Linked DNA regions of Homo sapiens. The protein of the gene in region 1 purifies or fractionates together with the protein of each later gene. This does not show direct contact. Each region holds a gene or a part of one and is shown in the gene's direction. Other genes may lie near its edges. The genes, in order: TIMP3, FREM2 and LRP1B.

Region 1 (3,655 bases):
TTGGCCTAGCAAAAGGCACAGGAGGCCTGGCCTGGTCCTCTCCGGGGGGCTGCCCGATGGCCTTTCCTCCTGTCTCTGCTCATCCACAGGTGTCTCTTTTTGTCTTTTTTCCCCAAAGTCCTAGGGCCTGGCATGGCATTCTGGGGGAGGAGGAGTTAAAAGGTGTTTCTATGGCAACTCCAGGCCCTGCACCCTATGGAAGTGTTTAGGAGAAGAATAAACTACATGCCGGCTTATAAGACACACTGTGGGGGAAAGAAAGGGACTTGGCAGCAGGCAGGATGTCTGTGGTCCCCCTCCCTGGCCAGTCATTGCCCCTGAAACTCCTGACAAAACCTTGACTCTAGAAGAGGAATGGGAGGGGGCTGGAGATGAAGAAGGCGGCCTCGGCCCGGGCAAATCTGCCCTGGCAGCTCTGTCCAGCTCAGGAAGGGGTGGGCTGTGCCAAGGGCTTTCTGAAAATGTGCGTGTGTGCGTGTGTGTGTGTGTGCGCGTGTGTGGCTTCTGCAAAGGTGGCTGGCAGGGCTGAGGGGGGTTGCAGCAGAGAAAGAGAATTTTGCTTCAGAATGCCAAGCCCTTCTCTCCTTCTCTCTTGCCGCCTTTGCATGGGAGGAATGGGGCTGTAGGATGAAGTGTGTTCGGGGCCTGCCTCTGAGCCTGTTGGGAATTTGAGCATGAGGCTCAGCTGGGGGGCCGGCTGCCAGCCCCAGAGGATGGCCCCTGGATAGCTCCAAATTGTTCTGACAGGGGCCAGTGCCAGCAGATTCTTTCAGTATCAGATCTGAGGTTGTCGTTTTAGCAAAGAAGCCATTTTCAAAGAAACCAGATCCATCCCCTCTCCCTCTTACACACAATTACACCTCAACACTGGGCTTTGCAACTTAAGGAAAATAGAAAGAATCAGACTTTGGAGAGGCGCCAGCACTTGGTAGGGCAAGTCTGGGGGACCCAGGCTGTGGATGTCTTGGAACCATGGAAGGAGGAGAGCTGCTATCCAGCTGGAGGAGGGAAGAGACATGTCTTAGGCCCCTCCTGGTTGCACGCACTTCCCAAATGCCATCTCTTTCACCCCCTCCCCCGACCCCCCACAGCAACCTTAAGAGTAGGTATTGCACCCATTTTTCAGATGGAAAACACTGAGGCTGAAGAGACTGTGCTTGTCCAAGGCCACCCAGTTGCTAAATGATAAAGCTAAAACGTATTATCAGTTATACCATGCTTCAAAAACCTTTCAACTTTCATTGACACATGACATTCTAAGGTGACCAGGAGATGGAATGGATGGTTAACATTTGAAGAATGCTTTTCTTCTACATCTGGGTTTTCTTTAAAAATATGAAGATAGCCAAAATGGCCAGAGGTTTTAATTAAACATCATCTTTAGGGAGGGAGAGCTTATTATTATTCTAGTGTATCATAGAGGAAAATTCTAATGTTCTTTGGCTATTAGATCTGGAAAAGACCCTTGAAACCATCAAGCCACAGTAATAAAAGGACTTGGTTTGTCTCACTGTGGCCCAAGGAGAAGTAAGGTTAATAGAGACAAGACATTTCAGGGCTTCAAGACTCTTCCCTTAAAGGTGGGATCAGTTAGGGCTCCCCAGTGGGAGGTACCCGGTCTGCCAGTGTGGTAGGAGGAAAGCCAGGGGGAGTCAGGAGACTGGGTCCCAGCTGGAGAAGGTGCCCCTCTGACAGTTCTGTGTCCCTTTCACAGTCCCTGGATAGATAAGGCTAGAAAAGTGGCCACAGAAGTAGCTTGGGTGGAGGGATTTTTGTTTGTTTTGCATGAACAGCAGGAACCATTCAGCTCCACTGCTGAATGGCACATTCCAACAGGTTCATTAATTAAAAACAAAAACAACAACACGATTCTCCATCGCACTTGGCTTTTACCATTCCAGCCAGTATGGACAAGGAGGCCCCTTCTTCTACCTTTTGTCATAGTCTACTCCTGGGTGGCCTTGAGAGGCAGGGTGGAGTGGTGGAAAGGCAATGGGGAGGGCAGATCTGAGCTCCACTCCTTCCTCTGGGGCTTGTTGGCTGTGTGTGCCTAGGCACATATGGGCTACCTTTGAGCTTTAGTTTTCTTATTTATACAAGGGGAATAACAATTTGTACCATCTTGGCCTGTTTTATCTATATTTTAAAAGCTACAAGTATATGAATACATTCTATGTCCATGTATGTATCTCTCTGTATATCTATGATATATCCATTTCTATTTATCATTTATCATCTATCTATCTATCTCTCTATCTAAAATCGGAGAAGAGTAAAATCCTTTCTGATTACTTTTTCTAACTCTAGTCCCTTCTCCAAATCCTTTTCTTCCTATACATTTACATACATAGGTATCCATAGCAAATTTATAGTAGTTTTTCCCTTAGAAACATGAATAGTAGAACATTAAACATCATGGAATACCACATAATACCACATATAGTATTCTGCTTGTTTCCCATTCAACAATGCGTACTAGAGATCTTTCTACTTAATATATATATAAAACTGTCAGAGGAGCACCTTCTCCAGCTGGGACCCAGTCTCCTGACTGCCCCCCTGGCTTTCCTCCCACCACATTGGCAGACTGGGTAGCTCCCCCTGGGGACCCCTAACTCATCCCCACCTTTAAGGGAAGAGTCTTGGAACCTTGAAATGTCTTGTCTCTATTAACTTTACTTCTCCCTGGCCACAGTGAGACAAACCAAGTCCTTTTATTACTGTGGATTGATGGTTTGGAGGATATATATATATAAATATATAATATATAAATATATAATTTATATATAATATATAAATATATAATATATAATATATATTATATATAATATATATTATATATAATATATATATATTATATTTACATATATATTATATATATAATATATATATTTCTTTTATGTATTTCATGAGGTTATAATTTTAAACAGCTAATAAGTATAGAGTGATTACTATGTGCCAGGCATTATTCTAAGTCATTAACTTACATTAACTCATTTAATTCTCTCAGTTTTATGAGGGAGGTGTGCTATTGTCATCTCCATTTTACAGCTGAGGAAACTGAGGCTTAGAAAAATGAGGTAACTCGTTTAAGGTTATACTGCTAGCAAGGAATACAGCCTGTATTTAAGCCCCTTCACCCTGGCTCTAAAATATATTTAACAACTATACTATAGGTCACATTATACCATATCATATTATATATACTACTACATACTCTTATATTATTATAATTATATAATATGCATTTTCAATTTTAATAGTTCCTGCCAATTTGGCCTCCACAGTGGCTGTGTTAACACAGTTCTTTTCATATATGCAACATGAGGGGATGGAGGAATGTTAGAGCCCTGTGCTTAAGAGACTCCCATGCTTCTCTCAAATAGAAAAACAATTTATAATTTTTATTGACTTACTGAGTGTTTTTTTTCCTTCTTTTTGTCTCTTTGAAAGGGAGCAAAATTAGGGCCACGAAGATCAAGTTAATGGGAGTATTTTCATAGGGAGAGGAAGGCTGCAATGCCAGGAAAGCTGTGACCCTTGACTTGTTGCATGCTGGAGTAATTCGGTTGAAGATAGCTTTATGTATTTATTTTGCTTTCAGAATAAGCAGTGGACCATTTATTACACCAAGTTGTTTGACTTTGAGGACTTA
Region 2 (3,755 bases), on another chromosome or scaffold:
CTATGATTCCTGGAAACGGACACCACTCAGTAGGTTTCATGGAAAGGAATCTGGCATCTCCCAGCCATACTTATGTACAGAGTTTGTGCTGCAGCCTGGAAAATAGCTGTAACTGTGTCAAGCAAGGATCAAAATCCTGGTCTGGAGGAGCTCAAGCTGAAAACACAAAGGCTTAAAAGGATAGGCACTTCTTACTGAAATTACTCCCATAGGCACCTTCTAGCTTCAATTTAGACTGAAATGTAAAAAGACATTAACAATTTCTTATATTTCCCTCTTTTCCAAATTCAAAATCCCTTGGAGCAGGAAAAGGGCAATTATGGCTAATTATGACTATTACTCCAATTCTATGCTCCTGTTAGCAATCAGATTTGCATTACTGGAGAAAAAAAATATTATCCTAAATAAAACATTCTGACTATGATTGCTTAGGAGCCAATCCGAAAATGATTAAGTTTAAATTACAAGGGATCTTTTTTGAGGGGGGGAGGAGAGTTGATAAAAAAACCTTTTAGAAAGGGAATCTACACACTACTAAAACCAAACAAACACAAGGGGGCAGGAAGAGCTCAAGCTCTGACTTCAAAACCTGTTGGCTGAAATGAGAGCTAAACTATTTTAGTGTGCCCTCCGGATATTTATCAATTTTCGTGGCATGCAAAGAAATGTGATGCTGACAAGTAGATTTAGTTTGTGCTTGGTCTAATTACTGCGAAGAGAACAGGAACGTCTCTAATGACAGCTACCCTAACAGAGTCGGATTTGGGAGCGCCTGGGGCCACATTCCCTAGAATTTATTCTTTGGTGCAAGACTAGCAATTCTGATCAGACTGCATTTCTCACGCATTCCAAATGCCCTTTTTCCCTTTTACTCTGTGAACCTCGGTTGCAAAGGAGGGGCTTGTTAAAAACTCACCAATCGGAGGACTGTGCCCATTGTAATTCACGAGGAGAAGGCAGCGTCTGGGCGCGCCGAAGGGGGCTGGGCTGGAGTGCAACCTGCTCTAGCTATGGCTTTTAATTCCAGCTGTCCTTTTGCAAATATGCCCCAGAATTTCTTCTCAAACGCTCTGGGTTTCGCTTCAAACTCAAAAAGCATTGCGTCTAACTTTCCCCTGGGTTTGCAAGTTTCCTTGGGAAATGGCCATGCCCTGCGCGGGATTTCATTGACTAGGGCGGAGGGGTGGGGGTGGCTAAAATGGGTAACCCTCGGTCGCCGGCAGATGAAGTGAACCCAGCACAGCAGTGTGTTCCGGCTCCTCTGCAGGAGTACCAGATCTATTAATAGCAGCCCAGAGAGTAGCGCAAGCAGGGGTGGGCAACTCCTGGCCACTTCTTCCCTCACTTCCAGGACAACCTGTTGCGCCTCTATCTCCTCCCCTCCCCGCAGTTTCCCCGCCTTGGCCTCTAAGAGCTGATTGGCAGAAATTACTACCCAACCCTCAGCTCCGCACCTCCTCCCCCGACCAACGATTGGCCACCTGGGAGGACTGGAGTAAGGGGTGCGAGCGGAGGGATTTCCCTCAAAGCCCAGGGTCCGGGGACCTGGAAAGTAGAAGTGGAGGGATTCAATTCTCCGCGCGATTGAGGCGCTAGCGGCGGAGCTGGACGGCCTGGGAAGGCTTCGGCTCCTCGGCTGCGGCTCCAGCCCGGACGGCGCCGCGCAACTTTGCCATCCTTCTGGCCCAGCCCCGGCTACAGGAGGACCCCGCGGGCAACGCGCGGAGTTCCTGGCACTTCCCGGCGGTGTCTCTTGTTGTCTGCCCGGGGACCGACTTCGCATGCTCTCAGGCTGACCTGTCCAAGCCCGAACACCGGGACCATGCACTCAGCCGGGACTCCCGGGTTATCCTCGCGCCGGACAGGCAACTCCACCAGCTTTCAACCAGGACCGCCACCGCCGCCCCGGCTGCTGCTGCTGCTGCTGCTTCTCCTGTCACTGGTAAGCCGCGTCCCGGCACAGCCCGCTGCCTTCGGCAGGGCGTTGCTGTCCCCTGGTCTCGCGGGGGCTGCAGGGGTCCCTGCTGAGGAGGCCATAGTGCTGGCGAACCGCGGACTCCGGGTGCCTTTCGGCCGTGAAGTCTGGCTGGATCCCCTGCATGACCTGGTGTTGCAGGTGCAGCCCGGGGACCGCTGCGCGGTTTCGGTACTAGACAACGACGCACTGGCCCAGCGACCGGGCCGCCTGAGTCCCAAGCGCTTCCCGTGCGACTTTGGCCCTGGCGAGGTGCGCTACTCTCACCTGGGCGCGCGCAGCCCGTCTCGGGACCGCGTCCGGCTGCAGCTGCGCTATGACGCGCCCGGAGGGGCAGTAGTGCTACCACTGGTACTGGAGGTGGAGGTGGTCTTCACCCAGCTGGAGGTTGTGACTCGGAACTTGCCTCTGGTCGTGGAAGAGCTGCTGGGGACCAGCAATGCCCTGGACGCGCGGAGCCTGGAGTTCGCCTTCCAGCCCGAGACAGAGGAGTGCCGCGTGGGCATCCTGTCCGGCTTGGGCGCGCTGCCTCGCTATGGAGAACTCCTCCACTACCCGCAGGTCCCTGGAGGAGCCAGAGAGGGAGGCGCCCCGGAGACTCTCCTGATGGACTGCAAAGCTTTCCAGGAACTAGGCGTGCGCTATCGCCACACAGCCGCCAGTCGCTCACCAAACAGGGACTGGATACCCATGGTGGTGGAGCTGCGTTCACGAGGGGCTCCTGTGGGCAGCCCTGCTTTGAAACGCGAGCACTTCCAGGTTCTGGTGAGGATCCGAGGAGGGGCCGAGAACACTGCACCCAAGCCCAGTTTCGTGGCCATGATGATGATGGAGGTGGACCAGTTTGTACTGACGGCCCTGACCCCAGACATGCTGGCAGCCGAGGATGCTGAGTCTCCCTCTGACCTGTTGATCTTCAACCTTACTTCTCCATTCCAGCCTGGCCAGGGCTACTTGGTGAGCACCGATGATCGCAGCCTGCCCCTTTCCTCCTTCACTCAGAGGGATCTGCGGCTCCTGAAGATTGCCTACCAGCCCCCTTCTGAAGACTCTGACCAGGAGCGCCTCTTTGAACTGGAATTGGAGGTAGTGGATCTAGAAGGAGCAGCTTCAGACCCTTTTGCCTTCATGGTAGTGGTGAAGCCCATGAACACAATGGCTCCGGTGGTCACCCGGAATACCGGTCTTATTCTCTATGAGGGTCAGTCTCGGCCCCTCACAGGCCCTGCAGGCAGTGGTCCGCAAAACTTGGTCATCAGCGATGAGGATGACCTAGAAGCAGTGCGGCTAGAGGTGGTGGCTGGGCTCCGGCATGGTCACCTTGTCATTCTGGGTGCTTCCAGTGGCAGCTCTGCTCCCAAGAGCTTTACAGTGGCTGAGCTGGCAGCCGGCCAGGTGGTCTACCAGCATGATGACAGAGACGGCTCGCTGAGCGACAACCTGGTGCTTCGCATGGTGGATGGAGGAGGCAGGCACCAGGTACAGTTTCTGTTCCCCATCACCTTAGTGCCTGTGGATGACCAGCCACCTGTTCTCAATGCCAACACGGGGCTGACACTGGCAGAGGGTGAAACAGTGCCCATCCTGCCCCTTTCCCTGAGTGCAACTGACATGGATTCAGATGATTCTCTGCTGCTTTTTGTGCTGGAGTCACCCTTCTTAACTACGGGGCATCTGCTTCTCCGCCAAACTCACCCTCCCCATGAGAAGCAGGAACTTCTCAGAGGCCTTTGGAGGAAGGAGGGGGCATTTTATGAGCGAACAGTGACAGAGTGGCAGC
Region 3 (3,655 bases), on another chromosome or scaffold:
AGCCCATGATACCTTCGAAGGCATGGAGGTAGGTCATCAGAAACAGCTTAAAAGAAAACCTCAAGACAGGTCTATTTGCGTGAATGGAAATCTATACAACAAACCCCCATGGCACAAGTTTATCTAGGTAGCAAACCTGCACTTGTATCCATGAACTTAAAAGGTAAAAAAATAAATAAGTAAAAATTTTAAGAAAGAAAAAAGAAAGCCCCAGGGAAGTTTGAAATTGAAGCTTTAATATTTTAAGTGGATTAATAAAAGCAATGACAATTGATAAATCTTCTACTACAAATATTGTGAAAAATGATTATACCTTCAAAAATATGACACAGCAGGTCACAGATTAAAGATGTGAAAGGACAATAAAGCTAGTAATAAGTTAAAAATAATTTTGGCTTTTTTGAAACGTGGTAAGAATAGGAGTCTGAATTGAGGGTATGATGATGCTATTTTGAGCTCTTCTTTTCTAGACCTTAATGAATGTTTGGTGTTTGGCACATGTTCCCATCAATGTATAAATGTGGAAGGATCATATAAATGTGTGTGTGACCAGAATTTTCAAGAAAGAAATAACACCTGCATAGCAGAAGGTAAGATTATAACCACTATTGCAAATCCTATTACAATTTTGTTGTAAACATTTTATGGAGAAAAATGTTTTATATTTCATTCCAGCAACAGCTTCATTTCTGATAAAATACTTTTAATGATGATTAATTTGGCCAGTTGGTTAGTTAATATTAATGAATTTAATCTTAGATGGTTTATGGAAATGACTATGAAATATATGGTTACTGTTAAAATCACATTGTGTCATTGTGTTCAAAACAATTTTTCAAAAGGGGTAAAATTTTAAAAGCCAGTGTGATAGAATGTGAAGTATCTCTCTTGATGGTCTGCTCTAAGGGAATATGAGAAAAATTATACCCCAGGGATAAAAATAAACATTAGCATTATAAGGAGAAAGGAATTTTGAGTAAGGATTTTAAAGGTTTTAAAACAAGATCTTGCTTTCAAATTTAGAAGTCCTCCACTTACCAATATTATTTTTTAAAAAGATTAAATGATAGGCCTGGTGCAGTGGCTCATGCCTGTAATCCCAGCACCTTGGGAGGCCAAGGCGAGTGGATCACGAGATCAGGAGTTCAAGAACAACCTGACCAACATGGTGAAACCCCGTCTCTACTAAAACTACAAAAATTAGCCAGGCGTGGTGGTACACACCTGTAGTCCCAGCTACTTGGGAGGCTGATGCAGGAGAATCGCTTCAACCCAGGAGGCAGAGGTTGCAGTGAGCCAGGATTGCGCCACTGAACTCCAGCCTGGGTGACAGAGCAAGACTCCATCTCAAAAAAAGAAAAACAAACAAACAAAAAAAGATTAAATGATAAACTAGGGTTCTGGGCAATTGTAGGTATAGATTTTAATATTCATGTGTTTATGCTAAATAATACTGTAACTTCAATATTGTTGGCTACAAAGTATGATTGGACATTATTAAGATTGTTATTACAAGAAGAAAACAGGATGATGTAATGGATCAACTGTGGGCTATAGCATTTGATATGCTTGGATTTGAATCCCAGCACAGCACCTTTTAGACTGTGTGGCCTCAAGGAATTCACTAAAGTGTCAGAGCCTCAGTTCAGTTTCCATAGTTATAAGAAGTGGAGATAAACTGTGAAAGGCTTAACATAGCGTCTGACACATAATAAGCATTTGCTAAGTGACAGCTATTAACATTACAGAGCTGAAAGGCACCTCATGAGGTATTATTATTATTATTTATTTGCAGAAACTATGTATGCAATCGAACATCTCTTTAGGGCTTCGTTAATATTTTAATTGATAATTTTGGCATTTGCTTTAGGGTTTTACTTGTTAGTATGAAAATGACATTAGTACTCTATTGTAGGTGTCAAAACTTTAGAATAGAATGTTACACTTAGCAGGATTCTAGATAATTTAGAGATTATAGAACTTTAATGGAATAAATACTGATATCTTTTTATGTTAAAAGTTAGTAAGCATTTAAGATGTATAAATACAGTAAGAGGAAGATTCTTCATATTTTAATTTTTATTTCTTAGCCTAAAGTAATGATCACTCAGGTGCATAAATTAAGTAATCAGAAACTTTTGAAGCTTAATGAGTATACAACATAGTACTTGGATATTGACAATTGATGCATTATAACCTAGTGTATTGTGACTTATCAAATAATAATCTCTCTTCATAAAAGGACATTTATATGTACATAATTTCTAGCCATAAGGAAAGATTGGCAGTAGAAAAACCTCTATCAATAATTATTGTAAATGTTTAGATAAGTGAGTATCAGAAATAATAAGCCATAAAGACTAAAAGACAATATAAAACTGGTTGATTTTTGAGGAAAAACTGTATTAAGAATAATAATTCAAGATAATTTAAAAGTACAATTATTGCTTTTAACATTAGTTGAAATTTACTTTATTTTTGTATTTTATTATAATAATCTCCAGGCTCTGAAGATCAAGTTCTCTACATTGCTAATGACACTGATATCCTGGGTTTTATATATCCATTCAACTACAGTGGCGATCATCAACAAATTTCTCATATTGAACATAATTCAAGAATAACAGGGATGGATGTATATTATCAAAGAGATATGATTATTTGGAGTACTCAGTTTAATCCAGGCGGAATTTTCTACAAAAGGATCCATGGCAGAGAAAAAAGGCAAGCAAACAGTGGCTTGATTGTAAGTAAATACCATTGTATATTTGAAAGTCCATACCTTTTCCCCACCTGCTTTTTAAACAAAATTTATCTAATATAATATCTAATTATACTAAGTAATATATTCAATTATTCTCCCAATATTCTCCTTAAATAGAAATAATGCATTTCTCTACTCATTCTCATAGCTGTACATGATTTATTTTAGTTGCATGCTTTTATGTTTTTGCTTTAATGTATTTGACTATTATATAAGAATGCTAATGAATGACATATAACATCTCCAGAACATCTATTTCATAGTGCTTTACAATTATTATGAACATAAGCTTTTTTATCATGAGATGAGATTGGGAAACATCACTTTATTTTTACATTAGAAAGTAGCGTAATGCAGGGATAACTATTTCTCTTCTTACATTATCATAAATATACTTCTACTGTAGGGCAGGACATCAACTCAATAGTGTAACCATTTCTTCTGACTCCTGATAACTATATTTCAGGAAATATCCAAAACAGAAATATTGTGCACTTGTGTATGCTGGACATGTTGATTATCATGGTTATTGTTTTTGAGAAAAAATAAACTGGAACATGTTTCAATTTATGGTTGTAGATTAGATTATCCCTTTTTGTTTTAGGGCATGTCAAGTTATTGTGTGTTTTATATTTTTAAGTAACCTGGAAGGAAAATGACAGATAAATATGTGTTTTTATAGGGCCTGGCCCATTCCTGTACAACCAAAAAGTCAAGTGGTGTCCCAGCAGGATGTAATTGAAGCTTTGTGTTTAACAAAAATTAGAGGTTCCTATCTAGAAGTTCTCACTACTTTTTCTACTAGCATCTACCATAAACACTTGAACTACATAAATCCATTTGATGCAAATCTGGAATATACTTTATCAGCAGTAGATGGCAATATGCTGG

What was found.
Region 2: the proteins of TIMP3 (region 1) and FREM2 purify together in Homo sapiens (affinity purification with mass spectrometry; one large-scale study listed by BioGRID and IntAct). This does not show direct contact.
Region 3: the proteins of TIMP3 (region 1) and LRP1B purify together in Homo sapiens (affinity purification with mass spectrometry; one large-scale study listed by BioGRID and IntAct). This does not show direct contact.

Annotation. Positions count from the first base shown.
Region 1 is NC_000022.11:32,804,552-32,808,206, forward strand, and holds part of TIMP3 (metalloproteinase inhibitor 3 precursor), read left to right. Parts: intron 1-3,655.
Region 2 is NC_000013.11:38,685,523-38,689,277, forward strand, and holds the start of FREM2 (FRAS1-related extracellular matrix protein 2 precursor), read left to right. Parts: upstream 1-1,554; 5' UTR 1,555-1,822; coding exon 1,823-3,755. UniProt on the Homo sapiens protein: Extracellular matrix protein required for maintenance of the integrity of the skin epithelium and for maintenance of renal epithelia. Required for epidermal adhesion. Involved in the development of eyelids and the anterior segment of the eyeballs.
Region 3 is NC_000002.12:140,349,888-140,353,542, reverse strand, and holds part of LRP1B (low-density lipoprotein receptor-related protein 1B precursor), read left to right. Parts: intron 1-470; coding exon 471-590; intron 591-2,504; coding exon 2,505-2,746; intron 2,747-3,655. UniProt on the Homo sapiens protein: Potential cell surface proteins that bind and internalize ligands in the process of receptor-mediated endocytosis.